Linked DNA regions of Homo sapiens: regions 1, 3, 4 and 5 are each reported to be linked to region 2. The links are microRNA targets in miRTarBase. Many come from high-throughput screens and were not tested one by one. Region 2 holds a microRNA gene; each other region holds the end of a gene's coding sequence. Distances are from middle to middle.
What was found. Region 2 holds the annotated microRNA hsa-miR-4676-3p (CACUGUUUCACCACUGGCUCUU, at 2,628-2,649, shown strand). A microRNA usually pairs through its seed, bases 2 to 8, with sites in the 3' UTR of a target mRNA and lowers its output. Matches are read on the target gene's strand: a 7mer-m8 pairs with bases 2 to 8, a 7mer-A1 pairs with bases 2 to 7 and ends in A, and an 8mer does both.

Region 1 (6,587 bases), not on the chromosome of region 2:
GTACATGAACTTGACGCAAACTCTTAGGTCCGCCACAAGCCTTGCTGGGGATCTAGTCCCATGGGTGGTTTGAGTCTGTGACCTTTGGGTCATTCATTCATAAAAACACATCTTGTGCATTCACTACATGCCAGATACTATTCTAGGCCATTTATATAGGCTCTCACTTCTCACGACACTGTCACTTTCATTTTATAGATGCAGAAATGGAGGTTCAGAAAGTCAAAATGGGGGTCACGTAGCAGGTAAGTGGCAGAACCAGATTTAACCCAGGTTGTATCTCAGGTCCTGTAGTCACTGCATCCGTCGTTACCTACTTTAAGAGGCCCGTCCTTTCCTTTTTAATCACAGCTCAACCTGGCATTTATGCTTATAGTATAATTTAAAACGGCCAAACCACGTCATGACATAGAAAGACAGCAATTTGTATAAGTTTCCATTAGTCAGTTTTCCCTCACTGTAGTTATTTCATGCATTGTTTTATAACAAATGACTTACATCAGCTCATAAATGCAATCATTGGCATTTCTATGAGCACAATACCCCAACATTTTTCTGGATTCTGACATGAAGACTGTCACCCATTTTATAAAATTATTAATATCATTTAAATAGAATTAAGGAGCAATAGAATTGGTTCTATTACTTCATCTGGAAAAAAAACTTTTCTCCAACTTAATATTTTTAAGTGACAGAAATGTACCCTTTTGCAAAAAATACCCAAAACCTATTTAAAAGACTTACATTTAAAATCAAATTATACTTTGGGAGGCCGAGGCAGGTGGTTCACCTGAGGTCAGGAATTCGAGACCAGCCTGGCCAACATGGTGAAACCTTGTCTCTACTAAAAATACAAGAATTAGACAGGCATGGTGGTGTCCACCTGTAATCCCAGCTACTCGGGAGGCTGAGGCAGGAGCATCCTTTGAACCTGGGAGGCAGAGCCTTTAGTGAGCTGAGATTGTGCCACTGCACTTCAACGTGGACAACAGAGTGAGACTGTCTCAAAAAAAAAAAAAAAAAAAAAAACAAAAAAAACAACAAATCAAATTATACAGAAACTTGAAACCAATGTAGAGAAACAAAATGGCTTCTGAACTCAGCAACATTAACCATTTTGCATGGAGATCGGTTACATGGGGGAGGGACATGAGGAAGAATTAAGCAAGTAAGTCAATATGTTGGGAATAATCAGTCATGATTCTCACTGCCTGAGAAGAAAGTTACAAATTTGGAAAAAGGGAAAGCTTGAATGAACCCTGTTGGTGTTGGATTGCAGTTGGAAGGTTGGTGTGAGCTCATGGTTTTTATGTATGTAGGTAGGTATATGTATGCGTACTTTGCAAGTGTGCACCGAACTGTGCATATTCATAAATACATTCTAGCTCTACCAAGACAGCCAAGGAGTGGTGACATCCAGTAGAATTGAGCCTATCTAGCACCCAGATGTTGGTTTTAAACATACCATTCTCTATCAAAGGAATCAGGGCTCTTTGGGAAAATGGCTGATTCCAGGGCCAAAGGAGACATTGCGTAAGATGGGGCTGAAAGTATGGAAGTGTTCAAAGAATAATGGTGGCTTGCCAAGGATAGAGAAGCTAGCTCTCAGACATTCCCACTGGGCAAATCCGCAACAAGTTGAGCAAATATATGATGATACATGATAAATAAATGGGAGAAGGGAAAGCTCTTCTTTGCAGCAAAATGTTGCAAAGAAAAAGTGAAGGAACTACATCACCATTTGGCAACCATCAGAGTAATATATTCAGGCAAAAAAGCTAAGAGCAGAGTTAAAACTGGGCAAGAAACATCATATTTATGTAGTCTCTAATATCACCCCCAAAGAATACTTCCAATTATAAAGGTGGATTTTAATTATAAAAGGAAAGACTAACTATACAGTGTTACTATCAGTTATCACCAGTGATGGGGCAAACGACCTCTATGCCTCCTGACATGACACACCGAGAGGAGCACAGCATCACCTCTGTGATGTTCCTGCCAAAAGTGCATACTCTGAATCTAATCAAGAAGCAGCACCAGACAAACTCAATTTGAAGAGCTTCTATAAAACAATAATCTGAAATCTTTAAAAAATTAAGGCCATTAAGGTCAAGGAAGAACTAAGGAATGGCCCTGGATTCAATGAGACTGAAGAAACATGACAACTGAGAGCAACATGTGATCCTGGTTTGGATCCTCTTGCTATAAAGGACATAAATGGGCAGCTGGTGAAACCTGACTGGGGTCTTTGGGTGAAGGGTATACAGAAGTTCTCTGTGGTATTCTTGCAACTTTTATATAAGTATGAAATTATTTCAAAATAAATAAAAGTAACAACATTTGTTCAAAAACTTTTATTTACTATAAAGACAAAAACACCAAAATAGGTACAAATACTATAAAATCGGTTCAATGGGGTAAAAATTTTAATTAAAATATCTCAATATATTTAAAATAACAAAGGATACATTTAAGCCAAATTTTCTTAACCCAGAGATTTTTTTTTTTTTTTTTTGTAACATTTGCTTACACAGTAAGGTGCTAATAGAAGTTAGCCCTTAAGCCCTGGAAATCTTAGGAATCATAGTCACACAGCAAATATAATTTCATTGTGAAAGTGAACTTTGGTAGAAGAAAAATCTATAGGACACCTGAGGTAGTAGAAACTGGAATAAACAGTAGTAGACGTTATTTACAACTTGAGTACCAAATAACATTAAGAACACAAAAATAATTACACGATACAATTTCCAGTCCAGCTTTGATCCAAAGAAAATAAGAATATTACATCACATTTGCATTGAAAACAAAACAAAAAACAAAACACCACAATTACCAGCAAGCTGAGGGAACTGCAAACAAACTCAAACACAATGGATTTTGAAATCTACAGATAGTTTGAGTTTGAAATGTGGTGGGCATGGTGATCTACAAAGTAATACTGATTAGCTGAGGTTCCTCAGTTTATACAGTTTACATTTTTGTCAGACACAGTATTCATCTGACCAATGATCTTCCAGTACATAAAATGGCAAGAGTGCATCCTTTAAAGCTTGCACATGAGAGACTTGGAAACAATCTTATTAGAATTGTGAAAATTCTAAGTAGTCAAAAAAAAAAAAAAACAAAATAAAAAAGAAAGTCAAGTACAACACATTTAGAGATACCAAACTTCACATTTCTGTACTATTTTTAACTCTTCAAATATCGCCAATCTTCCAAAACAAAGGAATGTAAAATTTCACTAAGAAACATATTCACATAAAAAACAAACTGCCTTTTAAAAATTGTAAGCAATATATCCCTGTAAACTTATCTTGTAACTTATTTTATTTCCAATTTGTGTTGTACATTTTAAATGTACTCTATATATAGCTTATTTAGTTTATCCTGAGTCTTTGAGAATAACCAATTCTATTTCACACTGGCTTCTGAAGAGTTAAAACTAAAATCTCAAAGTTGTACTTAATAGTTAATCAGTACTTGATTTAAAAGACTCACACACACACAAAAAGATTAAAAAGCTACCATTTTCCTTCAGGATTCCATGCATCTGAATTTAACTCCAGACTAAAACCGTTAGGTAACTGTGCAAAATCCAAGGAATTAGTGTATAAATGAAATTCAATTCCATTTTTCTTTCTGAACACATTTTCCAAGTTCAAAGCAAATGTACTGTTTAAAAACATTACTGATTGGTAGTTGAATAATCTTTTTAAAAAATGATCTGCCAGGCCTACTGTAAAGAGATGATGCATGGTAAAAGGAAAATGGCAGCTCTATGTTACTACCAGTAGTGAAGGTGAATGATGGATTGTTACATACAGAGTAAGACTTAAATGTTGTGAAGTTTCCTACAGTTTGACAACCAAAACATCTAAAAAATTCAAATAAATTTTAAGGTAATCTTGATCTTGGTTGTGAGTTGCACCAGAGAGGACAGTTTATTTTTAGTTAACTTGTACTTAACCTGCACAATAAGAGTGGTGACTGACTCAAATGTAGGTAGTACTTTATTGTATTCCAATTTAAAAAAACAAAATTAAGTCTATATTTTAAAAACTCTGACAATAGCAAGATATTTAATGAACTCTACTTCATATCTAGTTCATTTTTTTTTTCTGGTTTGAAAAAAAGATCAGCTTTCCCTGAATAAACAAAAATGAATGTAAATAAACATGAAAATACAAAACCATAATTTCCAAAAACGAAATGAATGGGCCAACAGTAAAATGCACAATGAGCCACAACTGCCCTGGTATTTAAGAAAATAAAGGTCAACTGTGGGTCATAAAGAAGTATCAACTTTTAAAAATATATGTATGTATTGCTACTCATAGCATACTCTGACCTAAAAGAGGCAGATACTGATTTTATAGCCAGTGACAAAAAATTTGAACGGAATTGCAGAACCCCCTGCTTGTGATCACTATATGAAATGGAAGAATAATTGAAATATTAAAATAGATCCTGAGCCCCTCAGCCGCTAATATTGCTGAAAAAGTGCTCCAAAAAAATAAAATTATGCTTCTGCAATTTAGTCATGCAAACTTCATTGTTTTCCTGTTCACCTAGGGCCAGTTCTTTGAAAGGCACAGTTTACAGTTTCTGCACTAGTTTGGGCTTTTGCATACTGAGCTTAGGTACAGATCATGATTTGTCAATCACATACTTAGGTAAGGGTTCCCCACTGGCCTCGTTCATAGCTGTTCAGTGGCATCATGGCCAGTAGAATATCAATGTGGTTCCCCACAAGTTTTTTTTCTCTTGTTGAGCATCCTGTTTCTACTGTAGTTGATCTGCATAATTGGCTACCATGTAGTACGAAAGACTGGATGCTTCAGTAGCTCTCTTGATGGAGGTCTGTCCTGAGGTTGAAGTTCTAAACAACGAAGAGCCACATCTCGTAAACCAGGAGACAAATGTGAAGGGATCGATGGAGCAGTAGTTGCACTAGCAATCTGTGGAGAAAAAGCCAGTGTTGAAGCTTTGCACAACTGTAACTTCTGATACAGAAACACATGTGCATAGACCTCATAACCCTTACATTTACATCCTGAACAGAGAGGAACTGAAGCAGAAGTGGGAGGATTTTCTGCTATCAAAAAGTCTATGAAAAAATTCATCCACTGGATGGGAGGTTTTCTCTAACAATCTTTCAAATTTTAGGATTTTAGGATTTGATCAAATATATCCTATTCCTTATTATTTACATCAACAAGGCTAAGTACATCAAAATGTTCAGGTAGATAAAGTATTCACTCAAATGAATTCTGCTGTCCTCATATTCAATCTCCGAGATGGTTTGTTCTTACTGCACGTTTTCTATTTCTTCAGCATACAGAGCTATTTAGATTAAGAAAGACTAAAACTGAAGAGTCAATTTAATACATAGAAAACACAACTGCATTGTTTTTTTCCTTCCGTGTTGGACAAATTCTGATTCTTAGTATCAAATACACTATGAAGAATAACTTTTTTATAAACAAATTGTAAGTCTGAATACTTTTTTTTTAAAAAAAAAGAAATTTTATTTGGTCTTATTTGTAGTTTTTCTAAAAAAATTCAAAATCTGATAATTATTTTTAAATTGTGATACACTCTTTACATTCTAAAATTTGTGCTGCAATAACCATATTTTAATTTCAAGTCATATATAAAAAAAAGTATTAGTTTTCTAACAATTTTTGAGCACCCATTATGAATCAGAGCTGACTCCAGGCAGAGATAGTGTCTTTCTTGCATATCTCCCTATTTGTGGTATCAATTTTCTTCTTCTTGAAATGCATTCCTAAAAATAATTTTTTTCAGTGAGTGTCTGCTGAAGGTAAACTTCCACAATTCTCATGTGTCTGAAAATATCTCTATTTCATTCTTATTTTTTGATGATCATTTAGCTAGCTATGAAATCCTAGGTTAACTGTTATTTTATTTCAATCACTAGAAGGTACAATTTGTCTTTTGAATTCTCTTGTTGCTGCTGTATTCTGTTATCCATATAATTGTTATCAATTTTTTTTCTTGTAATTTGTCTTTTCTCTTTGGTTCCTTCTTGTCTTTAGCATTCTTCAGTTTCATTAAGCTGATAAGCAACTTCAGCAAAGTCTCAGGATACAAAATCAATGTGCAAAAATCACAAGCATTCTTATACACCAATAACAGACAAACAGCCAAATCATGAGTGAACTCCCATTCACAATTGCTTCAAAGAGAATAAAATACCTAGGAATCCAACTTACAAGGGATGTGAAGGACCTCTTCAAGAACTACAAACCAGTGCTCAATGAAATAAAAGAGGACACAAACAAATGGAAGAACATTCCATGCTCATGGATAGGAAGAATCGATATCGTGAAAATGGCCATACTGCCCAAGGTAATTCATAGATTCAATGCCGTCCCCATCAAGCTACCAATGACTTTCTTCACAGAATTGGAAAAAACTACTTAAGTTCATATGGAACCAAAAAAGAGCCCACATTGCCAAGTCAATCCTAAGCCAAAAGAACAAAGCTGGAGGCATCATGCTACCTGACTTCAAACTATACTACAAGGCTACAGTAACCAAAACAGCATGGTACTGGT
Region 2 (4,000 bases):
GGATCAACTATCCTACGTCAATAAGTTTTTTCCCGCTGAAAGTAGTTTTGGAGTCCATACCTTCTGATGAATCTATTAATCATTCATATTTCCCTATGAAGATTTAAAAATATTTATTCCTTAAAAGTTCATTAGTTATTTACAAAAGTTGAACACATGCATGCCCTATGACTCAGGAGTTCCATTTCTAGGTTTATACAAAACAGAATTATGTGTCTATCTATATTCACCAAAAGACCTGGACAAAAATGTTCATGGCAGGACTGATAGTCCAAACTGGAATTTTCCAAGTGCCCATCAACAGTAGAATAAGTATATAATTTGTGACATAACCACATAATGAGTATTGAACAGTGATCAGAATGAACAGGTTACAACTACATATAAAAATGCATGGTTCTCACAAATAATATGATGAACAAAAGAAGCCAGACACTAACAGTGTATGATTCCATTTATATGAATTCAAAAGCAGGTAAAACTAATCAATAGTGTCAGAAGTCAGGAGACTGATCACCTTTGTTGGGGGTTTGGGGAAAGTGTTTGACAGAGGGTATGAAGGGGGCTCCTGGGGTGCTAGTAATGTTCTGTCTCTTGGTTTAGGCATTGGTTACATGGGTGGGTTCATTTTGTGAAAAAATTATCAAGTTTATACTTTTTCATTTACATGTTATTCAGAAAGTATATACAAAAAGTATTAAAAGTATTAGCAATTCTGGAAAACACACAGCATTTCACTGTTAACATTTAAAGGATATGTAGAGAACCAGTTGAGCAAATGAACCTTTTATCTTAGAATATATGCTGTCAGAATTATAGGATTATCAAGGTACCATTATGTTACTGGAGCTGTTACAGTCTTAGTCTTATTTGTATTATAAGAAGAATAAAGTAGCTGATGTTAATAATCTGTTGTTATTGTAACCAGGTTTTTGAGATGCCCCAAAGAAGGACATCTTTTCCTTTTGGTCTGTTTTGATTCACCAAGTCAAAACGTTCAGGTATTCTTTTAGTACAGTAAAGAATGATCGGTCAAATAGTTGTGCATTTGGAATATTCATGTGTTTACGAGTGCTGGTATGTGTTCCTTCCCACTGATTGTTACATCAGCAAGTGAGCTGTAGTCTTGGTTGTGTGTGTATTTTACATGTTCTTTTGGCTTTAAGGTATCACTTAACATAACCAGAATGTAGAATTTTCTTCCCAAACAGAGCTCTTTTTGTGATTTTTCTTATTGTCACTTTTGGTTTTTCCAGTGACTTGAGGATAAATCACCTCAGGCATTTATCCTTTATATTACAAACATACAATTATATTCTCTTAGTTATTTTAAAATATACAATTAAATTATTATTGGCTATAGTCACCCTGTTGTGCTATACAATTCTAGGTCTTATTCATTCTTTTAATTATTTTGTGCCCATTAACCATTGCCACTTCCCAATCATTTTTATTGATTGATTAGTTGATTGATTGAGATGGGAGTCTTGCCGTGTGGCACAGGCTGGTCTTGAGCTCCTGGCCTCAAGTGACCCTCCCACTTCAGCCTCCTGAGTAACTGGGACTGATTACAGGTGCAAAATACTACGCCCATCTAATTAAATTTTTTTTTTTGGAGAGACAAGGTCTCACTAGGTTGCCCAGCTGGTCTTGCACTCCTAGCCTCAAGCAATCCTTCCACTATGGCCTGGGATTACAGGCATGAGTCACTGTGCCTGGCCAATAATGTTTCTGATAACCAGTGACTGCTTACTAACTTTCAGGTTGTGTGACATGCCATACATACATGATTTTATTTCATTTATTCTGTGCACCAGTCCTATAAAGTAGGTACTATAATTTCTACTGCTGAAGAAATAAAGACAGGAAGGTTCTATGTAACTTGCTCAAGCTAGTAAGTGATGGAATTAGGAATTCAGGTATATGTCTGCATACTTCCCAGTTGTAACCTCTGTCTCCCCATGCTCCTGAATGCCATGAATAGATTACTCCTTAATCACCAAGTGCATTCCCACCTTTTTCTTAGCCCTTTCACTTTGCAGATCCACTGACTATTAGGCCCTGACTTGTTCCGTTTGTTCCTTTCTCATCATCTCACTCTATCCATCCTTCAAGGCACAGCTCAAGTCCTATCTGTTCAGTGACTTCTTCCTTCTCCTTTCCAATTTATAGAATACTCCTTAGCCCTGCCACACATTTTATACTTCCATTGTGTTGAATCTATCTTTTTATATACGGATGCTTTAGTTTAAACTTCAGATTGTAACCTCCTTGAGGAAAGGGCTTGGATTACAGATTTTACTTGTATTCTCTGCAGTGTCTTATAATAGATGTTCAACAAATGTATATGTTGATCAATTGAAATGATAATAGAACCCTTAATAGCTGAAGATATGTAACGTGCATCTAAGACTCCTGGTTATTTGAGCTTCTTGAAGTACTTTATACATCCAACTAACAGTCTTAATTCAGAACCAGGAATGACATGTTTAGGTTAGAGTTAGATACTGATTTCTAGACAGGAAGCTTAGTAATTGTTGCTACATACTGATCCAAGTAAGAATAGTTCTTTATATCCAGAGCCTGAATGAAAGAGCCAGTGGTGAGACAGTGAGTTGATTACTTCTCACTGTTTCACCACTGGCTCTTTGGTTCATGCTAACAATGTATCTCACCTAGATTATATTAACAGCTTTCTAATTAGTCTCCCTGCTTTTGTTCTTTCTTACCTCTGGTCGTAATTCAGCAGTGGGAATGATGACATCAGGCAGAAGGAGACTTATTCAGTAGCTTCTGATCTCACTCAGTAAAAGACAAAGTTCTTCAAGGGGCCTACAGGTAGTGACAATAAACTGGCTCTCTGGAGGGGGAAAAGGTTCTGATTTGTAGCATTTGCCTGTTTTACTGGTATAATTACTCCCACTCTGGCTGATTCAAAGTTCTAGAATGTACAGCAATCTGCTCCCCAGTCAATATCGGCTTCAGCACATCACTGTTGAACATTTGGCTCCCCGTCTGACTCCCATCTGCTGCCACTTTCCCTCTTGCCCACTCCATTTTGTGATACTGACCTCCTTGCTATTCCTCAAACATGCTGAACATGCACCTACCTCATAGGATTTTTGCACTGCAGTTTTCTATCATTAGAATGCTTTTCTCCTGAATATATACAGGTTTTCTTATTTCTTTTCCCTCTTGAGTCTCTGCTGAAATATTATATTCTCAGTAAGGTCTTCCATGATCTCCTTGCATGAAAATTTTATTTTATTGGTTGTTCTGAGATGATTTTAATATACACTACAGTGTTTTTGTAGTCATCTAGTGCCTTGCTGTAGTGATGCATTACTGCTATTTCTAGGCAATGTCATCTGTGGGTGGGCATAATGGTTATATTTGCTGTTGAGACTTAAAAAGAAGCATTTCATTTTGTTTGAAACGAAAATATCTGTGATACATATAAACAAATCAGTTTGGGCCTCTTATTGGTAATTGCAACTTGAATTACTATCCACTTAGGCTCCTTATGGGGAATGCAACAATATTTATGGTTAAGTGTACATTTGATAGTATATTGTTCTCACAGTAACATCATTGTGGGTTTGAAGATCTGTGCTAAGTTATGAAACAATGGAATTTATACACTTTATTTGAAGATAAATTGGGTTTATAGGGAATTCTTGGTATAAATATTAACGTGTAGATTAGTATAACATACTGTTTATTATAATTAGAAAAAGCTGTGGGCACTTAAATCCCAGCTACTTGGGAGGCTGAGGCAGGAGAATCACTTGAACCCGGGAGGCAGAGATTGCAGTGAGCGGAGATTGCACCTTTGCACTCCAGCCTGGGCAACAAGAGTGAAACTCCATCTCAAAAAAAAAAAAAAAAAAAAAAAAAAAGGTACATGACTTCTTATGAACTAGATGCCACCTTTTCCCCTTAACCTCAGCTGTTTCTTTTTCTTTTCTGTTTTATTAAGGAACTTTAACCTCCCGCTTGA
Region 3 (6,587 bases), not on the chromosome of region 2:
CAAACAAAAAAGTCACCCAAGCTGGTGTGCAGTGGCACGATCATGGCTCACTGCAGCCTTGACCTCCTGGGCTCAGGTGATCCTCTCACCTCAGCCTCTCAAGTAGCTGAGACAACAGGCCCATGGCACCATGTCTGGCTAACTTTTTGTAGAGACAGAGTTTTGCCATGTTGCCCAAGCTGGTCTCAAACTCCTGAGCTCAAGTGATCTGCCCACTTCAGCCTCCCAAAGTGCTAGGATTACAGGCATGAGCCAGACTCTGTTGTTTTTCTGTTCAAACCTTAGAAACTCGGTCTGCCATAGAATAGTATTTAAGCACACGCACGGTAGCATCTGCCCAGTGGTCTCTCGGTGCCTGTGGGCCTGGCTCCCTTTACCGTCCTCTCTGCCAGTGGCCCAGGGAGTCTGCACTTCCTCACCATGTCTGTCCCTGTTAGGGGAGGAGCCTGATGGGCCCGTTGGTCGGAAGACTGCTGGCGTTGTCTTCTGGGCGGCAATGTCATGGGAGCAAGATAGGAAGGGAGGAGGTGATCGGGGCTACGCAGACTTCTTAGGACATCCCTCAGTCCTGATGTCCTGCTGCATTCAGGAAACCATGATTCCTCCTAAGGATTTGCACCTGGCATTTGTCCCACAACAGCAGTTGACCACTGGCAGGTCCACTTTGTGGGAAGCCAGCTTCCCAGAGACCATGCGAGTTCTGGAGGGTCCGTCTTGCTGGGGGGGTGAAGCATTTTCCTACAAAGAAATGCAAAAGCAGTTAGAATGCGGTACACAAATTATGTGGGAATTTTTTTGTGAAATGGGAAGTAAAGTGCCAGAGAAGCCTGTGTCCACCGGAAAGTGGCCGCTGTGAGCCGGGCAGGGCCCCCTCCCCATGCACGCTGTGCTGAGGAAGTGGTGCTTCTTGTGTGAGGATCCCCTGGTCAGGGCTCCCAGTGAGGGTAACTCACAGTCAAGGGAGGCGAGGTGGGAAACACCCTGGGGGAGGCCAGGCAGGTCACGCCTCTGCTGCTCCCACAGGGCCAGGGCGTCTTCCTCTTGGTGTCCTGGGGGATCCTCAGCCCAGCCCCACTCCCATCCTAGCAAGGCTCCTTGTGCCCCAGCCTCTGACTCCTACACAGCCAGGAGCTGGACCCGCTGCTTCCCAGGGTCCTTTCTGCTCAAGCAATAGGGGCGTTTACATCCTGTGTTACCCAGACACGGTGACTACTTCCCCCAGTCTTTCCCCTGAGCTAAAGGAAGCCCTTGGAAGACCTCCAACAAAATATCAACCCAGGCACCCGGGGGCCAAGGACAGAAGAAACCAAGACACCATGTGCCAATGTCGCCGATTTCCATAAACCTTTTGAGAAATGCCCACTCCTCACAGTGACAGTGAGGGTTTCTGGGCTTCTGCAGGGACCACCCCACCGTCCTCGGTGTGGGCTCCTCTAATTCTTCCCATCCCACAGCGGAGAAAGCTGAGGCCCCAGTACCTCCCGTGTCTCCCGATGTCAGCGCTCGCGTCCTCCCTGCCCCTCTCCTGCCCGCCCCGCCGGAGCTGCTGCGCTCACGTCTGCCTCTGTTGCATTGCAGGAGCAAGGAGCCCCTGCAGGACAACGTGATCGCCACCTACGAGGAGCACGAGGACAGCGTCTATGCCGTGGACTGGTCCTCGGCTGACCCGTGGCTGTTTGCCTCCCTGAGCTATGACGGGAGGCTCGTGATCAACAGGGTGCCCAGGGCCCTGAAGTACCACATCCTGCTATGACTCCCGGGCCTGGGTTATCCAGGTCCCATTGAGTGGTTTTCCTCTTGGCAGATTCTCAAACAGTCGCAGCTCTTTGGAGGTGACTCGTGTTCCAGGTGGATCCCTCTCTGGGAGAGCCGCTGTTCCCTTCCTGTAGCAGCAGCATTTATGAATGGGGTGAATGGGGCTATTGTCGACGGCACAGCTAATGCCCGAACCCAGCCCCTGTCGGCAGAGACAGAGCCCCACATTATTATGTGAATAACAATGTTTTCTGTTTTAAGGGTGTCAGGAGTTTCGCTTTTTAAAAAAATGTCTGTTCCTGCAATAGTAACTCTTCTTTCTCTTGAGAGTAAAAAATGAAATAAAATAAATCCACGCTGCACAGGTGCTCGGCTCATTCTTTCAGGAGCTCTGCCCTGTGACCCCATCTCCTGGGTCTTTGTCCATTTTCTCTTTCCTGACCCAGGGAAAATGCAGATGGACAGACGTGTGCTGTCTACGCCGCCCTAGCATGGAACTCCCGGGAGCCATGCTGGCTGCTGGTGGGCACCTGGCTCGCGCCCTGGGCTGAGCTGGTGTGATGCATTTTCACTGCTGTAGACGCAGGCTCTGCCCGCCCTGGGCCTCCCCTGGTCTCTGCAGCCCATCCTGTGCTGTGTCCTGCCCACCTTGTGAGCCGGGCAGGGCCTCCTCCCCACGCGCACGCACTGGTGGCCTTGGAGGTGCCGTCCTCCCTCACCTCGGAGCTTGGGGTTGGGCTCCCGCGTCTCAGTTGTCGGGGACCCCTCACAGGCTCCTACACTCATCAGTGCTTATCCTTAGGAATCCTCAAACACTGACCTCGCAGCCTCTGTTCGTGGTTCCTTTGGGTGTGCGGGGTCTGTTCTCTGTGTCTGGTGCGTGTTCCCACTGGAGAAGCCACCTGGGCCCTGGACTCTGGGCTCCATCTCCCTTAGGCCTCCACCTGGCCAGGTGTCCCCGCAGGGGCCACTTCTGCGCTCTGCTGCCCCGATCACCTCATCTGTAATGATGGGGAAGGATGGGCTGAGCTCACAGGCCCATCAGCTCTGGGGTTTGACGATTCTAGGACAAGTCTTGCCCGACCTGCAAAAAGGACACGTTCCTGCTGCAGCGCCCCCGCCAGTAGGTGTACCGTGCTGCTAAGGACGCTCTGCACCCAGAGGGCCGCATCCTGGATTTTCCTTTCATAGATGAGAGTTCACAGCGAAGTGGAGGCCATAGGGGGAGAGGTGAAAAGGTGGGGTCCTGGGCGAGGGGACAAGTATGGGGGGGTCCACAGGTGGGGGCTGTAGGGAGGGGTGCACAGCTGGGTGGGGCTGTTGGGAGAGGCAAGCAGGTGAGTGGGGAGTGGGGAGGGGAACGCAGGTCGGGGGGCCGTGGGAAGAGGCACGCTGGTTGGGGGGCCGTGGGGAGGGGTGCACAGGTGGGTGAGGAGTGGGGAGGGGAATGCAGGTGGGTGGGGCTGTGGGGAGGGGCACGCTGGTTGGGGGGCCGTGGGGAGGGGTGCATAGGTGGGTGAGGAGTGGGGAGGGGAATGCAGGTGGGTGGGGCTGTGGGGAGGGGCACGCTGGTGGGGAGGCCGTGGGGAGGGGTGCGCAGGTGGGGAGTCAGGAGGGGCGTGCAGGTGGGGGGGCCATGGGGAGAGGCATGCTGGTTGGGGGGCCATGGGGAGGGGTGCACAGGTGGATGAGGAGTGGGGAGGGGAATGCAGGTGGGTGGGGCCGTGGGGAGAGGCACGCTGGTGGGGAGGCCATGGGGAGGGGCACGCTGGTGGGTGGGGAGTGGGGAGGGGCGCACTGGTGGGTGGGGGGTGGGGAGTGGGGAGGGGCACACAGGTGGGTGGGACCGTGGGGAGGGGCGTGCTGGTGGGGGGGGCATGGGGAGGGGCAAGCTGGTACGGGGGGCCTTGGGGAGGGGTGTGCTGGTGGGGAGTGGGGGTGGACAGAGACAGGTGTGTTGCAGACCCTCCAGCATTTCTGCTTCCAGGTAAAACCTGCACGTGTGAGGAATGTGTGGCATTGTAATGTCAGTCCTCCCTTCAGTTGCTGTCACTTGAAAGAAAATGTGTTTGTTTAACAAACATAAATTGAGTGCCTACTGTGTACCCACACTTCTAGATCCTGCTGTTGCTGCAGCCACAGCTGTGATTAGGGCAAGTCTCAGCTCCCCTGGAGTGAGTGCTCCTGTGGGCCATCAGGTGACATGGGGACAGATGCCACAGGGGAGTGTAGAGGAGGGGCCAGGGAGCGCTGTGGGAGCGAGGCTCTCTGAGAAGGCGATGCGTGAGCCAAGGCCCAGGGTTGGGGTGGGGTGGCACCTGGGTGAGTGGATCAGGTAGGGAGGCAGCTGGGCTGGCATGGGAATGAGGCAGGAGGCCCAGCCATGGGGAACTGGAGGTCCTGCCTTTTTGAGACGGAAGCCACTGAACAGGTGAGGACTGAAGTTTAGAGTTTGGATGGTTTACTGCCTTTGATTGGCACACAGCCGCCAGTGTGTGTGCGTTGTGTGTGTGCAATGGTGAGGCCACTGTGCACCCGGTGGCTGGCTTCTCATGAGTTTAACACACACTCACCACACCAGTCAGCCCTCACGTCTTTACCCTGGATCCTTTTCGAGAAAGGATCTGGAAAGTAAACATTTTAGACTTTGAGGGCCACAGTCACTGTCCATGTTCCTCTCTGTGGTTGTCCTGCCAGACACACACCATGAGTTTACAAAGACAGGCGGTGGATGGATGTGGCCTGGGGCCTGTTTGCCAATGCCAGCCCCAGAAAATAAAACTTATGTTTGCATAAATACCTATACACAGATATTTCTACCCAGGCATAATCACCAAGTGCTGGAAGCAACACAAGCGTCCTTCAATGGTGAACGGATGGCAGGGCCCCCAGAAGACCACAGGAAAGTCGTGTAGAGAAGACGTTCAGGTGAGCTCTGGGACGAGGAATCTTCAGAGGAGGCGAAGATTCCTCTGAATCCTCCTTCAGAGGAGGCGAAGATTCCTCTGAATCCTCCTTCAGAGGAGGCGAAGATTCCTCTGAATCCTCCTTCAGAGGAGTCTGGGGGTGGGAGGGCACAGGGCATGGGGTATCCAGGAGCCAAGCAAAGTGTTGGTTTCCGGGAGAAGGACTGAGGCACCCTCAATGCTGCAGATGGGGCGTCAGATGTGGGGGAGAACGAGCTGGAGATGGACACGGACATGGAGGTGTGGATGGCCCTGGGGAGGCCCCCTGGCAGCTGGTGGATGGCAGGAGCGGCGTGGACAGCAGGAGCAGCATGAACTGCAGGAGCGGCACGGGATAAGAGAGGTAGGAAGCTGGGAGCGGGAGGGGCTGTGTAAAGGAAACAACAGGAGGAGTAGCCCCCCAGGGCCTGTGACCACAAGGAGCTTTCTATTTCTTTCTTTTTTTTTTTTTTTATTGAGACGGAGTTTTGCTCTGTCGCCCAGGCTGGAGTGCAGTGGCGCAATTTTGGCTCACTGCAACCTCCGCCTCCCAGGTTCAAGCAATTCTCCTGCCTCAGCCTCCAGAGTAGCTGGGATTACAGGCATGCGCCACCACACCGGGCTAATTTTTGTAGAGATGGGGTTTCACCTTGTTGGCCAGGCTGGTCTCAAACTCCTGACCTCAGGTGATCTGCCCACCTCAGCCTCCCAAAAGTGCTGGGATTACAGACGTGAGCCACCGCGCCCGGCTGAGGATCTCTCTCTTTAAGAAGGAGAAATATCTGTGTTTCTGAATGCGGATAGACTAGTCCAGTGGAGAAGCACAGAGGGGGGAGAAGGGATATCCTGGAATAGGAAGGCGAGGGTGTGATCTGGTGAGCAACTCCAGATGAACAGGGTGAGAGGTTCCGTTAGAGAAAGCGAGTGTGCCCCAGGACAGCACCACGTGGGACCCAATGCCATCATCAGTGCGGCCATCGTCAGTGTGGCCATCGCCAGTGCGGCCATTGCCAGTGCGGCCATCATCAGTGTGGCCACGGTTTGGGCGTCATCAACAGTACTTCTATTTGTAAAATGCACACACATTCAAACACAGGACATAGTTTTATCTTAAGGACCCCTTGTAAACAGAGCAAGCATCCCCCTTCTGAGGATTTTGAAACAGGCTAGGGGCACCTTGCCCGGCTCTGTCCACCGACCGGGGCATAGGCCATGTCCCCTTCATGCAAGTCTCTCAGGCTCTGCCTCCAGCAATTCTTACCCATAGGCAGCCCAGTGACCTCTAGGTGACTGGTTGGACAGCTGGAACAGTTAGGATGCAGCCATGCAGAGACTTTGGGGTTCATCACCAGCATCCTTTGTTGCCCATGCCATTTTCAGAGCTAAGCCTGCATCCCTGTGCGTGGGGTGGTGGAGGGGCTGCACTGGACACCCCTGCGCGTGGGATGGTGGAGGGGCTGCACTGGACACCCCTGCGCGTGGTGTGGTGGAGGGGCTGCACTGGACACCCCTGCGCGTGGGGTGGTGGAGGGGCTGCACTGGACACCCCTGCGCGTGGGGTGGTGGAGGGGCTGCACTGGACACCCCTGCGCGTGGGGTGGTGGAGGGGCTGCACTGGACACCCCTGCGCGTGGGGTGGTGGAGGGGCTGCACTGGACACCCCTGCGCGTGGGGTGGTGGAGGGGCTGCACTGGACACCCCTGCGCGTGGGGTGGTGGAGGGGCTGCACTGGACACCCCTGCGCGTGGGGTGGTGGAGGGGCTGTGCTGGACAAGCCTCCTGTATAGATGGGGTTCTTCCCTCCTTTACACAGAAGCTGTGTTGAAGGTGATGGGATTACATGTGGACCTTCTTTACCAGGACCTGGGGGGCTGGGAATATGGGGAA
Region 4 (4,000 bases), 43 Mb from region 2:
TGATTCAAGTACATCGTGCATGTCTAACTAACTGCATGAATGAAAACTTATTTTCCAAAAGACAGCTCCTCTGAGGCCACAATTTTGTAAATAATAACAACAGAAATACATTTCCGCTGAATTCTGAGAAAAGAATTCGCTAATTATATAAACTCCCACTGCTCTTACATCTCTTTTCCCAGGCACTTTACATGGACTCCAAAATGCTTTGGCTCTCCCACTCTCCTAGTATAGCAGATGGAGTGCTTGGGAGTGTCTGATTTAGAGACAAGAAGGCAAGAGGGAGACGGGCGGCAGCTAGAAGCGGCCCATCCTCAGAGTGTATGCAAGACAGGAAGTGTCTGAATATGGACCAAATCAAAGGCTGAGGCAGCTCTGGGGGAGCCCTGTCCGGTGTTTGAGGAACTCGAAGACACAACTTCTAAGACATTCTTACTACAGCACAAAAGTCTGTTAAAAAAAAAAAAAAAGAAATGGAAACCACACTCCTATCACATTCTAGATCGTTTGCTATACTTCATGAAAAATAACCTATGTTAATCTCAACTTATACTTTTTTTATTACAGACTTGAAAAAAATCAGGTATGGAAAAATAAATATGTAATTGGCATTCTCAATTCCTTCTCTATATTGTGTGCTTCTTCCTTCATGTGCTCTATTAAAAAGATACTCAAGCATGTATCGGTCAAAAATATTCAACATCAAAGTGGAATGAATGTGCTTCTAATCAGTGTGGCAATACTGCCTTTATTCCCCCTCTCTTTCTCTCTGAAATAAGTAGGGCATGGCTAGATGTAATCAGGGAGTCACGGTCTGCATGGACCCTAGTTACTGTTTGGTTTCATCAAAATCAACTGCAATGAGATACTTCCTGCAAGACACCCAAACCTCAGCAGATAACCCCTGTCTTCAGTGGCACCCCAAATGCCCGGACTGAAGGACAGGAAGTAGCGAATCATTTTTGCTTTTAAGCACGCCAAGAAGAAGTGAGACAGGTAAATGATTTAACTTATTGTGCTCCAGTTCTGGGGCAAATGATGGTGTTTTAGGGTCACCGTGTCAAACTAAGATCACACTGAATGGCGGAAACCTTGCTTGGCTTGCTTTGATAAGAATCTCTCTAACGTGTTGTCCCTGAACAAGATGCTTCCCCCTATTTATTTAATCAGCAACTGATTTTCAAATTGAGGAGCTGGTAACTTGAATATGCTTTTATCACTGAAGAAAAATGAGATATTTGTTGGTGACAGATGAGGCTTTTCAAAATGTAATTTATATATTGCCTACCCATGCATTCTTCAATGAAGGCTGCCCTTGTTAGCGCTGAAACTCCCATTTCCGCTTTGGTCATCTGATGCTAATTAGAGCTGCTGTTACTGCAGAAGTAATCAGTAGCTTTCTACAGTGGATCACATAGAATCAGATCCCTATGAAATTAGTCCAGTGTAGATACACAGAGATACCTTAATGAAAACAAAATACACTCTGTAAGAGATATGCGCTCATAGATAACTGGCATTCCAAATATTTTGACACACTTACTTAATGTGTTTATTCAAAGTAAGAGTCTTTATAGATCTTTTCACTAATTAAATACAGTTGGGTGTCTGCTGAATTTCCCTTGAAAACATTTTGAAGTGAAAAAAGTCAGTACTGAGTACTGTACATTTGTGTTGATTAACATTTGGACACAAATATACTTTTAACACCAATAGAGCTGAAAGACTATGCCTTTATCTTGGATTTCATAGATTTCCCCTTCCCCCCAGTGACTTATCTTACAAGGCAAACACCAGCAGGCAAAGGGGATCTGTAGAAATGTGCACCCTGGTTTCCTCCTCCATCTCTTCTACCAATGTGGGAAGAAAGCCAATGCTTCCCAGCACTTTCTGAAGGTGGAATCTCCTCCTCTTTACTTAATGTTGGAGAAAAGTGGCCACCAGTACTCGATCATTGTAGATTCGGAATCTCGCCATCTAAACCAGACTTCAAAAGTGCACTTTCGGGTCTACTTAGTTAAGAAAGAGAATAATGGAAGATGATAAGTGGTTAGCAAAGCCAGATGCCTTATCACCAGGGTCCTGTTCTGCTGATCTGTGCCAAGCAACTCATCTCACCAAACCTAATGTCAACCCTCTTGATCCACAAACCTTCCTTCTCTTCTAACATGGTCTGCAGTCTGTCACGGAGGACATGAAACAAGATGCAAGCAGATCCTTAATGACCTTCAGACCAAACTGCTCCAAACAGTGGCCAAGACGTTGCAGTCAGGAGTAAACACAATCCTTAGGAAAAGAACTGTGCATCCCAGCATGGATGTGTTTCCAAAGAAAGGAGAACCTGCCCATGCCTCCATGTCCCAATCAAAGCTGCCTTTGTCAGATAACCTGAAAACCAAGGTACTGGATTGTGTCATGACAAGTGTGTCAAGAGATGCTGCAGAACATTTACAAGCAGCCACCAGTTCCCTCCACAGGTATGCACGCTTGCACTTCGAGCAATGACAAAAGACAATGCTTGTCTGTTCTGTTTCCTCCTGCCTGTCCACAGTCACATGATGCAGAACTTTCTGCTACAGCACGAGGCTTCTCAGAGTCTGCTTTTGATGAGCTGTATTTGTGAAGTTCATATCAGAGCGAACACTACTTATGAGGGGAAAGAAGCTCTGTGTATTTTGTATTAAACCATCAGTAAAAAAATGAGACAATATCATTACTTTCAAAATATAGAAAGCCAATAGTTGAAATCATTTAGTAGTAAAATTTTTTTCTACATATAACCTCATATGTGTAAAGAGTATTAGAGCGACATTTCAGCTATATTGGACTTTTGTTAGGTAAAGGGCTTCTCACTCAGGTAAGGCTTAGGATTAGGAGAGTGTCGTTCAGGGATTGAGGTATTGAATCGGCACACTCATTCCCCACTCTCTATTTTGACGAAAAGACAGATACTATATTTGGATGTGACAGGTGTTTTTTCTTTTGTACAAGAGTGCAGAACTGTTTACAGTACATAAACATCAGCGTGGAAAATGCTAGTACATATATAAAGGTGAACATCAGTACCAGCTGTTTCCACAAAGCCCACTCTTGGTAAGAATCTTCTTTGTGGCAAAAAAGCTTGGCATCAATGTAGGCTGAAATTTATATCATTAGAAATCAATGTCATTAAAGGAGATATGGGAGTTACCTTAGAAATATTAACTCCTTCTCTAGCTAGGAAAGGCCAGAAGTAAAACTGTTAAAATCATCATCATGATCATGATGATCATCATCATGATCATGATGATCATCATCATGATCATCATCATCATCGAAAACACAGCCCCAGTTTGCTTTACAGCCCAAGTTACAAACTGTCCCTTTAAAATACAGCATATCCCAAAGCCTTCTGAGTTTGGATGGAGCACTGCATCAGGTTTTTCACAGAAGCCCCAAAGGATCACAAGAAGCTTTCTTAAAAGGAAAAAAAAAAAATGTTCCAGTTGAATGGAACTGTTTCTCAACTGAGCTCCTAAACTGGAATTTCAGCTATACAAGAGAACAGGAAACAGATAACTTGGTTTTTGTCTTTTTACATGTCCATATTGTATTTTTTTAATGCAGCTATGATGTTTCTGTTAAAGATAATAGGGTGGACAGAGCGGTTACCACCAGGACCAGCAGTGGGCTCAGACCACAGCTTGGAGGAGCAGCCATTGATTTTGTGGTTATGTGGCTGGAAGCACCGAGACCTTCTTTTTCATAATTACCCTGTAAGGAAGAATGGTTTCATTATCATCCACTGCATGTCTTCATTCTACCACAGTATACTTTACACTCTCTCTCCCCCCGACTCCCCACTGGCTGACCCACTCACCAAAGCTGACCAAGATTTTACCACTGAGACTTACATTCACTGACTTGTAGTTTTATGGGAAGAAACCATGAACCTGGGTTAGAACCAGATACTTTTGATAAAGCGTCTGGCCAATGCTTACTGCTTGCTCTTCCATTAGGA
Region 5 (6,587 bases), not on the chromosome of region 2:
CAGATCTTCCCTCCCTCTTCTGTCTCTTTTTCCTGATCTGCCCTTCTGCTTCCTTCTTCTGCTTTTAAGAACTCATGTGATTAAATTGGGCCCACCTAGGTAATCCAGGATAATCTCCCATCTCAAGGTACTTAACTTTAATCACATCTACAGAATTGTTTTTGCCCTGTGAGGCAACGTGTTATAGGTTTCAGGGATTAGGATGTGACCTTTCAGAGGGCCATTATTCTGCCTACTACATTTACGATGAAGCACTGAGTATGGGACTAAGCCTGAAAGGACCAAATCCAGTTTACATGACAAGAATTTGTATACACCCTATAACAAATACCTCATAAATATTGAAGAGTATCACAAAGATAACATTTAAATCTAATCCCTGACATGTAAAATATATATTAAATTAAAATGTAAAATATATATTAAAATATATATATAATATCTTACCTTAAAAAATGTTGACATTGTTTTCTTTTATGCCTTAACTCAATTAGTAACATATTTCTCCATACAGCACTTTCTTTTTCCAACTTCAACTCTTTCTTATCTTTTTAGTTCCAGATTGAAAAATGGCAGATTGCCCGTTGTAACAAGAGCAAGCCTCAGAAGTTTATTAATGATTTAATGCAAGTACTTTACACAAATGAATACATGGCCACTCACAGCCTGACAGGGGCAAAATCCTCTACTTCAAGGGACAAAGCTGTAAAACCAGCTATGAATCAGAATGAAGTCCAAGAAATCATAGGTGATAATATGATTGCGTTATATTGTCGTATGAATTTTAAATCATGTTACCACTCAAGGTCAAGATAGTCTTTCATGGTCCTTTTATTTTTTAAAGTTTATTTTTCTGGGAAAGAAAAATCTTAGGATAGTCTAAAGCTCTCATTAAATATGGGAAATTTTATAGAAAAACTTTACATTAACAATGGTTATTAAAATGAAACTAAGTTTTATATCACCAAAAGGTTTCAATTCATACAATTTATAGCTTTGGAAATGTAAATTTTCACAATCTTTTAAAGTAAAATTTCAATAACAATTTCTTCCTTGCTTTTGTTATATGTCTTATCTTTCATTCCAGAAAGATAAAGGCTAATTTGACCATCCTATTTATGGTTTTTAAATTAATGAATCTCCTTAAATATAATCTAGATTATCCAATTAATTTTTTGGCAACATCTGACAAATGTAAGGATTCTCTGAATCCTAGCTCTATATATGTCATTTCTTAACATACAACAATGTCTGTCTTCCTGAAACAAAAAACTGCTACTTCTAACAACTGCAATGAAATTCTTTCCCTTGGCTCACACATGCTGTTAGACTGACTTTAAAAGTTAGAGAACATGGCTGGGCGTGGTGGCTCATGCCTGTAATCCCAATGGTTTGGGAGGCTGAGGCAGACAGATACAGAAAAAGATCAGTCAGAGTTTAGTTGTTTCAATTAATGTTGGAAATGGATAAAAATACATTCCTAACATTTTAGAGCAAGAGGACTTAGAGTTTAAAGCAAGTAGGAGGATTAAAGTTAATCACTACCATAGGATCTCAGTTGATAATATAGACCTTCTGATATCTCTTGCTTTACTTAGAAAAACCTGCCTATATATTCATCTGTTTAAATAGCTCATGGGTGTTTGGGCTACTTTTGTAAAATGGAAAAAAAATTATAATGTAGAATACTTGATGTTTTACCTCAGTTCATACCCTAAGATGCAAAGCACTCATGAAGTTTCTCATGTGTCGCTATTGGTTTTTTACAGGAGTAACAAAACAATTATTTCCCAATACGGATGATGTTTCAATTAGGAGAATGATAGGGCAAAAGCTAAACAACTGTACCAAGAAGCCAAATTTAAGCAAAAATCTTAACTCTCAGGATATTAAATAGATCCTTTTGGTAAGTCTTTTAAATCTTCAGTCCTTTCAATGTGGCAAGAAAATGTCATAATACTTTTATTTTATTGGAATAGCATTTTCCAATCACTCTACTAGAAAATACTAGTGACCCATGAAAAGCTAATAGGTATTCCTGGTGGCAAAAGGGGAGAACTGGGAGTGGGGTTTGAATTGGAAAATGCTGGGTTCAGTTTTTCTTCCTCAGAACCTCTCAGATATTTTGATGCCCTTTTAACATGCTCATGTGCACCAGAAATCTCTAAGAAAGGGATATAGTATGTAGTGTTTTCCAAATGTGTTTTACTGAGGAAATTTTTTCACAGAATCCTGTTAACTTGGTGGGGATAGAAAGGAGCCAAAGGAAGGACACATGACAATTTAAGAAGTATTTCTCTCTAGGACAGAGGAGATTTAGACCCTTGGGAAATCTGAAGTACATCGATGAGACTGAACTTACAGCTAGCTCTAACAGTGGTCTGACAGTTGTGCAAACTATTGGCTGAAGTGTGCAGCGTTCTTCTCCACCATCCTACATGTTGCTTCGCATGGTCTTTAAATTTTTAAATTAGTTGTTATTGTTTAATAAGGATTTTTACCAAGATGCATGTCCTATACTAAGAAAAAGAATAATTTTTTAGTGAGAGTTCTAAAGTAAATAGACTTTCTAGTCAAGCCTTGACCCAGGCAAAACTGTGAAGTGGAATTTTGCCACCCACTATCCTGGCTAGCTCACTTTTACTTACCCCTCCTCTCTCTCAACTATTTTGATGGAAAATACGTGAAACCATGTGTATGACGTGTTAAAATTTTCATTGATTAATAGAGGCATGTGGGTAACACATGAGGGTAAGGCCCACCACAGATATTCCTTTTTTCTTTCCATTTTCCTTCCACTTCTATCTTTGACTTGTACTTTGCCTGTCTTCTGCCTAATACCAGCCACTTTCGAGACCATTTTACTTGACTTCATTTCTTCTGACCATGTTTTAAATGAGATGTGGAGCTGAATGTAATGCAGTAATCCCCTGCCCCAAACGCCCTACATGTTACTGACTACCACTCCCATCCTCCCCCAAGAGTCCCTTATCTATTTTGCTACACAACTAAGACCAGCTCTGCCGAGAGTCAACAATGTCTGTCTTCCTGAAACAAAAACATAAACAAATCAAAAAACTATTACTTGTAACAACTGCAGTGAAATTCTTTCCCTTGGCTCACACATACTGTTAGACTGACTTTAAAAGTTAGAGAACATGGCTGGGCATGGTGGCTCACGCCTGTAGTCCCAATGGTTTGGGAGGCTGAGACAGACAGATACTTGAGCCCAGGAGTTCGAGACCAGCCTGGCCAACATGGCAAGACCCCATCTTTATAAAATACGGAAGAAAAAAAATTAGCCCAGCGTGGTAGTGCACACCTGTAGTCCCAGTAACCCAGGAGCCTGAGGTGGGAGGATAGCGAGGTGGAGGCTACAGTGAGCTGTGATGTTGCCAGTGCACTCCAGCCTGGGGGACAGAGTGAGACCTTGTTTCCAAAAAAAGAAGTTATAAAAGATAAGGTTACCTGTATCTTTTTTCTCCAAGTGATTATAAATTTCAGTAGATTGTGACCTCACAACTTTTCAATTATTAGATAATTGCTTAAATATGCCCTTAGTACTTCCTATTTTGACATGAGGTTACCCACCCAGTTACCTTGATGTATAATGACCAAGTTCTCTATTTTTTTTTTTTTTTTTGAAACAGTGTTCTCACTTTGTTGCCCAGGCTGGTTTTGAACTCATGAGCTCAAGCAATCCTTCCACCTTGAACTCCTCAAATGTCAGAAAGCACTCCACCCAGTAACTAAGTTCCTTGTCTTTTCTTTTTTATTTTTCATTTTTGAAACGGAGTCTTGCTTTGTAGCCCAGGCTGTAGTTCAGTGGCGCGATCTCTGCTCACTACAACCTCCACCTCCTGGGTTCAAGCAATCCTCCCGCCTCAGCCTCCCGAGCAGCTGGGACTACAGGCCCGCGCCACCACACACAGCTAATTTGTGTATTTTTAGTAGAGACGGGGGTTTCACCATGTTGGCCAGGCTGGTCTCGAACTCCTGACTTCAAGTGATCTGCCCACCTCGGCCTCCCAAAGTGCTGGGATTACAGGCGTGAGCCACCGTGACCGGCAATTTCCTTTTCTAAATGGTATGTTACCAGACCTCCAAGTCAAGTGGCTATCTTTTGGGGCACACTGTTATATTTCAGAGGTCTGTAAAGCATTTTGATATCCTAAACTCTTGTTTTTTTTTTTTTTTTTTTTTAATATTTCTGACTTCCAAGGATAGGCACAAAACTCATCTCTGACTATATCAGCCAGCAGAATGTTAAAGAAGTGAAAGTTAAGAGATTTTTATATCAGTTTTGCTTGTACTTAACAATAGAAGTGTTATTAAATCTGCTAGCTATGGCATTAATTAAAATTGAAACAAGGAACAGACATTTTGCTATGAACTTTGTGCCTTTTGAACCTGAGCCTGACTTAATAGTGCCAAGTTGTTTAGACTGGAAATGCATGTATTTTGAATCAGTAATGGAGATTAGCTAGAATGGAATTTTTTAAATTTGCAAATATCTTTCATTTTAAGTATGGTTGAATTCAAATTATTGCAAAAAGGACTGAGGAAAATATGCTGGAAAAGACAGGGTCAGGTAAGACCTAATTTGGACATGCTTGATAAATTAATCAGATATAGCACCATCTAGTGGAATACTGTTATATTTTTCTGTTCTCAGTCATTTAACTCACAGGAGCCTATGGCCCTGCCCTGCCACCAAAAATATTCTTTGAAAAACTTACTTTTCTAGCATGGTCCCTGTGGTAGACCGTGCCCTCCACTCAGTCCTGAGCTCAGGTTGTCACTGGTGGCTTAGATTTAAAAGGGTAACAATTTCCCAGCTATGGCTCAGGTCTGTGAGGGTAAGGCCTAAATTCCTCCCTTTTTTTAATATATTCTTTCTTATTCCTGTGGCTGCCCTAAAGTTGCCTGTAGCTCTCACATGCAAGAGCTTGATTTTTTTCCAGCCTGTCTCCATTTTTTACTTCTTTCTTGCAGGCATTGAAGAAAAATGTATTTATAAGATTTACAGAATATTAGGCTATCACCTCTATAACATCCAACTAAGTGACCAAACTGCCTTCTCCTGAAATTTCCAAAGCGGCCTCAGGGTATATAATCTCTGGCGTAATGTTACATAACATATATTATAACTTATAGGTGATCTAATACAGTGGTGCTAAAATGGTGGGGGGCGGCGGAGAGGGAGGTGTGATTTAGCCACCTTCCTCCAACGCAGGGTATTTAGGAATGCCTGGAGATATTTTTGATTGTCAAAACTGGTGGTACTTCTGGCATCCGGTGGTCAGAGGCCAGGGATGCTGCTAAACATCGTTGTTGAATTTGGTTTGCTAGTATTTTGTTGAAGATTTTTGTATCTGGCTCATCAGTGATGCTGGCCTGTAGTTTTGTTTTTTTGTTGTGCCCTTCTCTGGTTTTGGTGTCATGGAAATACTACTTTGTAGAATGAGTTTGGAAGTATTCCCTCCTCTTCAATTTTTCTTTTTTTCTTTTTCTTTTTTTTTTTTTTTTTTGAAGAATTAGAGCAGAACTGGTATTACTGTCTCTTCAAATGTTTGTAGATTCAGGGGTAAAGCCATCAGGTACTGGGCTTTTCTTTGATGGAAGACTTTTTATTATAATTTTGATCTTGTTACTCCCTATTGATTTGTTGAAGTTTTCTATTTCTTCATGGTTCAATCTTGCTAGGTTGTATGTGTCCAGGAATTTAACCATTTCTTCTAGGTTTTCCAATTTGTTGGCAAAGAGTTTTTCATAATACTCTCTAATGAGTCTTTGTATTTGTGTGGTCTCGGTTATTATGTATCCTTTTCCATGTCTCATTTTATTTATTTGGCCTTCTCTTTGTTATTTCTTAGTCTGGCTAATGGTTTGCTGATTTTCTTTGTCTTCTAAAAACACCAGTTTTTTCTTTCATTGATCTGGTTTTTTAAATCTCCTTTTTTGTTTGTTTGTTTTTTGTTTTTTGGCTCTGATCTTTATTATCTCTTTCCTTCTACTAGGTTTAGGCTCCGTTTGTTCCTGCTTTTCTAGTTCTTTGAGGTACACCATTAGGTTGTTTATTTGAAGTCTTTCTACTTTTTTGATATAGGTGTTTATTGCTACAAACTTCCATCTCAGTACTGCTTCTGCTGTATAGTATAGATTTGGGAATGTTGTATCTCCATTTACATTTGTTTCAAGAAATTTTATACTTTTTTTCTTAATTACTTCATTGGTCATTCACGAGCTTGTTATTTAATTTCCATGTGTTTGTGCATTTTCTGAGACCCTCAGGTTATCAGTTTCTAGTGTCATTCCATGGTGGTCATAAAAAATACTTGATATGATTTCTACTGTTTTGAATTTATTGAGACTTGTTTTGTGGCCTAGATATAGCCTATTCTGGAGAACGTGCCATGTGTTAATGAAAACAATGTGTATTTTATAACAGTTGGGTGAAATATTCTGTGAATATCAGTTTGGCCTATGTGATCTATGGTGTACTTTAACTCCAGTGTTTCCTTGTCAATTTTCTGTCTGGAGGATCTGTCCATTATTGAGAGTGAGGTGTTGAAGTTCCTCAGTAT

Region 1: miRTarBase lists MAP3K1 as a target of hsa-miR-4676-3p. Seed matches in the 3' UTR shown: 8mer at 3,677-3,684.
Region 3: miRTarBase lists EIPR1 as a target of hsa-miR-4676-3p. Seed matches in the 3' UTR shown: 7mer-m8 at 1,811-1,817.
Region 4: the mRNA of GFRA1 is a reported target of hsa-miR-4676-3p. Seed matches in the 3' UTR shown: 7mer-m8 at 3,495-3,501, 7mer-m8 at 3,000-3,006 and 8mer at 831-838.
Region 5: the mRNA of BEND6 is a reported target of hsa-miR-4676-3p. The part of its 3' UTR that is shown has no 7-base or 8-base seed match.

The regions. Positions count from the first base shown.
Region 1 is chr5:56,891,908-56,898,494 of GRCh38, reverse strand. MAP3K1 (mitogen-activated protein kinase kinase kinase 1) reads right to left here. Exons shown (of 20, transcript NM_005921.2): 20 at 2,343-4,964. The coding sequence ends at 4,815. LOC105378980 (a long non-coding RNA gene) reads left to right here. Exons shown (of 3, transcript XR_948347.4): 2 at 199-245; 3 at 1,915-2,058. Among named protein-coding and RNA genes, the nearest start is that of SETD9, 14 kb to the left of the region's middle.
Region 2 is chr10:72,718,445-72,722,444 of GRCh38, forward strand. MIR4676 (microRNA 4676) reads left to right here and starts at 2,585; the gene lies at 2,585-2,656. The region is part of intron 1 of MCU (mitochondrial calcium uniporter); the gene reads left to right.
Region 3 is chr2:3,184,500-3,191,086 of GRCh38, reverse strand. It overlaps EIPR1 (EARP complex and GARP complex interacting protein 1), which reads left to right. Exons shown (of 9, transcript NM_003310.5): 9 at 1,579-2,117. The coding sequence ends at 1,753. It overlaps LOC107985840 (a long non-coding RNA gene), which reads left to right and starts at 3,719. Exons shown (of 4, transcript XR_001739257.1): 1 at 3,719-4,683; 2 at 4,909-5,064.
Region 4 is chr10:116,060,792-116,064,791 of GRCh38, forward strand. It overlaps GFRA1 (GDNF family receptor alpha 1), which reads right to left. Exons shown (of 11, transcript NM_005264.8): 11 at 1-3,753. The coding sequence ends at 3,607. Among named protein-coding and RNA genes, the nearest start is that of SNORD158, 130 kb to the right of the region's middle.
Region 5 is chr6:57,016,652-57,023,238 of GRCh38, forward strand. BEND6 (BEN domain containing 6) reads left to right here. Exons shown (of 7, transcript NM_152731.3): 5 at 556-748; 6 at 1,770-1,906. The coding sequence ends at 1,897. Among named protein-coding and RNA genes, the nearest start is that of KIAA1586, 27 kb to the right of the region's middle.